Regions from separate parts of the Homo sapiens genome. Here region 1 is linked to region 2. The links come from fine-mapping of genetic effects on gene expression. A gene starts in region 2. The other region holds a variant in brackets. All regions are shown on one strand. Distances are between the middles of the regions. Region 1 overlaps LOC124903372. Region 2 holds the start of TCL6 (T cell leukemia/lymphoma 6).

Evidence for each region.
Region 1: its variant is fine-mapped to the expression of TCL6 in whole blood (TOPMed, PIP 0.91).

What each region holds. Positions count from the first base shown.
Region 1 is chr14:95,666,042-95,668,954 of GRCh38, reverse strand. It overlaps LOC124903372, which reads right to left. Exons shown (of 2, transcript XM_047432042.1): 2 at 1-829. The coding sequence ends at 458. All of the region lies in intron 4 of TCL6 (T cell leukemia/lymphoma 6), which reads right to left. Among named protein-coding and RNA genes, the nearest start is that of TCL6, 15 kb to the right of the region's middle. RefSeq lists enhancers at 1,595-2,241, 2,888-2,913. The variant C/A (reference allele first, on the strand shown) is at 1,502.
Region 2 is chr14:95,650,813-95,653,725 of GRCh38, reverse strand. It overlaps TCL6 (T cell leukemia/lymphoma 6), which reads right to left and starts at 1,629. Exons shown (of 8, transcript NR_028288.2): 1 at 1,500-1,629; 2 at 1,237-1,349.

The DNA.
Region 1 (2,913 bases), 15 kb before region 2:
GAGGATTGGCTTATCCAACTCTGGCTGAGGGCAGCTTCTGGAACAAAGAGGCTGCTTAGAACACGCCCATGGAAAGAAGTCGAATTGAATCCATCAGAATTCCCCACTTGTTGATGCTGGAGTGAAGTGGAGACATTCCATTCCATGAGGCCCATTTTGTAGATGGGGAACTAAGGCTAGAAAACATGTCCCTTGAGCCTTGCTTTTAATGATGACAAAGAGACAGCGGTGTGTAGTACAAAAGGCCTTGAACCAGAGATGCAGAGATCTGGGCTTTACTTGTACCTCTGTCAGGGACGCCCTGGGTGACTGCAGACAAGCCACTTATTCTCTAAGTTTAGGAGAAAATCAGAAATTGCTGATTCATCACTCACTCAGCAAACATTTCTGGAGCCTCTTTGACGTGCCAGGCCTGGGGATAACTATTGAAATATGTGGGCTCCAAACTGTAGCCAGATCACATCACGGAAGTTGGGTTTGGCCCTGCGGCCACCTGTCCGCGTGGCTTTCGGTCACGTTTTCTCACTTGCTGTGTCTTCTTCACATATGTGTAAATGAGAGAAAAGAAGGGCCTGTTTTTCATGCTGCTGTGCAGTTTGAATAGTAACGTAGGATGTGCACAGAGCAGCCCTGGCCTGCAGAGGCTCTCAAGCTGTAGACAGCATTGGTCAATGGACTGCTGCAAAGAACCAGCAACAGGCAGGACATGCAGTAGATCAGGGTCTGGAAACACTTCGTCCGAGCCACACACCTCTGGAAACTTAGCAGGAAGGCTTAATTTGAAACATTTGTGATCATACTTCAGGATGTCACTTGTAATTCCCGTGATCTGCAAAAAGGTGAACGTTCACACTCACATTTAATAGCTTCATTCTAACATCTCGGGTACCCCATAAATACATCACTCTGCACCCACAAAAATTAAAAATAAAAAAATTTTAAGTTGTTTTATGATATAAAAATAGCTTGAATCTAACCAAACTATAGACAAAATCATGAGTTTGATATTCTGGTAACTTTTTGGAAATACATAAATGCATATTAATCATTGCAATTCTCTATCTTTGCAGCAGTTATAGCCTATCGGGGAAAAATTCAGAAAAATAGAAAAGCATTATAGATGGGATGGAATCATTAACAAGAGGTAGATTATGAAAATTTCCAAATGAGGGGCATGAGTAGTAGGGGTGACCTGGGCTTCCAAAGGTGCCTCTGGCCACAGAGTGAGGCAGGAGATTCCAGGTGAGCCCAGACAGGAGCAAGGAGGGGGTTGGGCTTGTGACCAGAGCTCGAGTCTGGGAAGGGCCTCCACTGGCCACCCTGAGCACAATGAAGGTGTGGTACAATACCCAGCAGGGGCCTCACCACGTGCAGACATGGGCCCTCACCCCCTCCTGAGCTTAGAGCCCCCAGGGAGGCAGGCAGGAAGTGGTGTTTGCAGACAGCTTTCAGCAGAGTGCCCAGCAGGTGCCCTTTGTGCAGATGGTACAGTTCCCAGGAG[C/A]TCTCTCTCAGTGCCCTGCCCTCCAGCCCCACCCCTGGTTCCAGGGAGGGCCACACTAGGGCAGGATCCAGCAGGACAGCAAGAAGCCAGCTCCCTGCCTGCCTGACTACAAGGTGCCTTTTGGCTCTCAGACAGTGCAGTAGTGGAGCAGTGGAGCTGCAGCCAGCCAGAACCCGGTTCAAATTTCAACTCTGCCTCTTACTAGCCGGCTGACCTGGGCACTTTCTTCCTTTTCTGGCCTCTGTCTCCTTTTCTGTAAAACTGAACATGAATATCTGTCTTGTTGGACATTGCATCCACCCGATGTTTACTGGGCATCAGTTAGGAGTTAGGCATTGTTCCTGCTGTGAGATCCCACTGATGCCTGGGGTGACGGATCATCATACTCAACAGAGCTTTCATTTATCAAGTGCTTCTTCTATACCAGACCCGGGATGAAATGCTTTACAGCTAATATCTCGTTTAATCGTCACCAAAAGCCAAGCAGAGGTCGAATCATCCCATTTAACAGTTCAGAAAAAGAAGTCTCATGAGGTGAAACAAGCTGCCCAAAGAGTTTCAGCTTAGCACAGCACAGCTGGGATGGAACCAAGGCCTGTGGGACACCAGCCTGCTTCCCAGCACCTCCCAAGGGGTCCACACCTGGGACATTCTGGGGAAATGCCTGGGATTAGCCAAGGTCCTTGATCCCCTTCCCACACTGCATTGCACACAGGACGGGGCACATTGAGTGTCCATAACCAGTCAGGAGTGACTGGTGGAGGCTTGAACAGCGTGACCAAGCATTCCACCTCACATCAGGGGTCCTGCCCCTAAATCTCAGCGGGACCGCAGCCAAGTGGCTCCCTGACTGGGCCTGGGCAATGAAGAGATGACAGTTGATAAAGATCTTTGGAGAGTTCTCAGAGCACTGATCAAACATAGAGTCACCATTTGGATCAGAGGGAGCTCGTGTTGCTGGCCTTGGATGCTGGCCTGCCACTCTCTAGCTTTGTGACCTTGGGTAAGTGACTTAACCTCTCTGAGCCTCAATCCAACTCAGTTTTCCTGTCTGTATTCCAGGGATAGTAGTAATGCCTTCCTGACAGAGCTCAGAGGTTAAAGGAGATGATGGAGGCAAAGTGCCAGAGCATGGTGCCAGGCCCCAAAGGGTGCAATGATGTGATGGGATCATAAGAAGAGCGGGTATGGTGGCAGCCCCATTTCCCTGCATCCTCCTGGCTCCAAGCATGGGAGGCAACACCCAGTAAACCTGTGGAATTGAGTTGAATCTACCAACCCCAGATAAGAACCCATGTGCAGTGTCATGAAACCACTTGCAGTTATAGGGTAAAGACCTCAGAGGAAAAAAATATGCTTTGTTGGCCGGGCGCAGTGGCTCACGCCTGTAATCCCAGCACTTTGGGAGGCCG
Region 2 (2,913 bases):
ATACCAGCCAGGGCATCATACTGTGACCCCCATCTCTATAAAAATAAAATAAAAATCGTATCCCTGTAATCCCACCAATTTGGGAGGCTGTGGTGGTAGGATCACTTGAGGCCAGAAGTTTGAGACCAGCCTGGGCAACACAGTAAGACCTCCATCTATACAAAAAGTTTTAAAATTAACCAGGCATGGTGGCGCATGTGTGTAGTCTCAGCTACTTGGGAGGCTGAGAAGGGAGGATCATGTGAGCCCAGGGAGGTAGAGGCTGCAGTAATCCATGATTGCACCACTGCACTCCAGCCTGGACGATAGAGTGAGATCATTAACAAATAAAAACAGTCAAGCTCTGTAAAATATTTGAAGAGATTTATTCTGAGCCAAATATGAGTGACCATGGCCTGTAACACAGCCCTCAGGAGATCCTGAGAACTATGCCCAAGGTGGTCGGGGTGCAGCTTGGTTTTATACATTTTAGGGAGACATGAGATGTCAATCAAATACATTTAAGAAATACATTGGTTCTGTCCAGAAAGGTGGGACAACTTGAATTGTTGGGTGGAGGTTGGGGGCTCCCAGGTTACAGGTAGATTTAAAATTGACTGGTTGACAATTGGTTAAGTTTATCTAAAGATCTGGGCTCAATAGAAAGAAAATGTCTGTGCTGTGATAGGAGGTTGTGGAGACCAAAGTTTTACCATGCAGATGAAGCCTCCGGGTAGCAGGCTTCAGAGAAAATAGATTGTAAATGCTTCTCATCAGAGAGGTATAATGAGTCCTGTCTGACCTCTACTTTCCATCATGGCCTGAACCAGTCTTTCAGGTTAAAAGTACCCTGGCCCAGGAGGAAGTCCATTCAGATGGTTGCAGGGAGGGCGGGGCTTAGAATTTTATTTTTGGTTTACATCCTGTCTCAAAAGAAAAAAAAAAAGAATAAAAGAGTTTTTGGTTTACACCCTGTCTCAAAAAAAAAAAAATGAAAGAAAAGAAAAATCTCAAGGACATCTAAAAGCTGATAAGACAGAAATTACCAGGCCAAAAATAAAAGGGAAGTAGAATGCAGAAAGGGAAAAAAAACAGAATGGAAGCTGCTTTTTCCCTGAGAGCTTTTTCAGAACCTGAAAATCAGAACTTGTTTGAGCCTCCCGGAGACTGGTGGAGAAAGAAGTCCAGCCAGGCCCTGCCCAACTCTAAAGGAAAACCCAAACTTGTCGATATTTGATGAGACTATAAATCGCTTGCCTCTTTTCACTCTCTGGTGCTCCAGCAGCACAGCCCCACACCAACCTTCATCTGGAGTGTCTCAAGACCTTCTGGAATCTTCTCCCACACATACCTCCTTACACAGGTCCATTCTGTGAAAATAAGCAATTCAAAATCTAAGCTGTTGGAACTTTAAAATATTTCGAGCCTTAAGGGAATTTGATCATGGGACCTGAGTCATGTAAACAGGCAGCTGCAACCTTTGTTTCTCTGATTATAGATTAGCCTTTTTCCTTACTTACATTGTTGTGTAAAATGTCGTATATGACTGAAGCGTTCCAGGGAAGACCCCTTTCCTCTTCACTGTTGATCTTCATTATAGATTAACTCCCTCTTTCCTCTCTGACAGAGACTTCATGACCATCACATTGTCTGGGATAGAATGTTAAACACATTCTTAAATTGGAAAGGAAATGAAAACAAGCTGTAGAGAAAAGAAAACAAGGTGGAGGCAGGGGAACAACCTATAATTAATTATAGGTTGTAACTCATAAACCAGCCTTGCATAGAAAATGTTAAACAAGAAAGTTAAAACAAGAAAAGTTATACAAGAAAATGTTCTACAAGGTTACTAAATGTCTTTGCTTTCTGCCTATGTAAGCAAGACTTTAACTTTTAACTTCAGGGCCCTGGCCCCATTTTCCTAGAGTCTGTGTTTCTCAGATGGCCATTCCCAGCTTTTGGCTTGAATAAACTCTTTAAAACTGGATTCTGGGCTGGGTGCAGCGGCTCACGCCTGTAATCCCAGCACTTTGAGAAGCTGAGACAGGAGAAATCACTTAAGCCCAGGAGTTCGAAACCAGCCTGGTCAATAAAGTGAGACCGATTAAAGAGAAGTAAACTTAAAAACGAACAAAAACAACTTTGTTTTTAAAACTTAAAAACTTAAAAACAACGAAAACCCTGGATTCTGATCCTTTCAATTACTTTATATTGACAATTCTACTATGGGTGCTGCCCAATCAGCCTTGTAAAGCACAGGGCTGACCACTTCAACTCCCTGCTGAGGGTTGAATCTGGAATAAAATCCAGATTCCAGAGCTACGGTGCCCTTAGATCTGGGGCTGTTGCTTTTGTACTTCTGTTTTTCCACTTTACTTAGCTGAAGCACAATCCCTACAGCAAGCTAAGAAAGGAAAAGGTCCATTCCAAAACCCTTCGCTCCCTAGACCACTGCTCTGTGTGCAGACAACGAAAACAGCCGAGAGTTCACACAAAAGGGAAGGACTAACTGCCCGGGGCAGGCTTCAAGGAATGCCTGTTAAGCCCCAGGGAGGAAGTGGCTGTTGACTTGGGAAGAGTCCGTTGGGTAGTCAAGGGCTAAGGTGGTGGTTGACATGAAGGCAAATTTTCCATGCCCTGGTGAGAAGTTGGAATCCTTGCTGTGAACGTTGGGTAGTACAGTTTGCAGGACCATTTGCTTGGCTATTGGGTCCCACCTGTTGACAGGTGCCAAGCCTGATTTTCCTTGGCCTTCCCTCCTGATTTAGCTGAACACCAACCTTCTCAACACAACCCCGAAGTACACCTTGCTCAGTTTTTAACAGAGCTGCTAGATTTCAAGGCATGATTCTCAGCACTGTGTCCGGAATTGGTGGGTTCTTGGTCTCACTGACTTCAAGAATGAAGCCGTGGACCCTCGCGGTGAGTGTTACA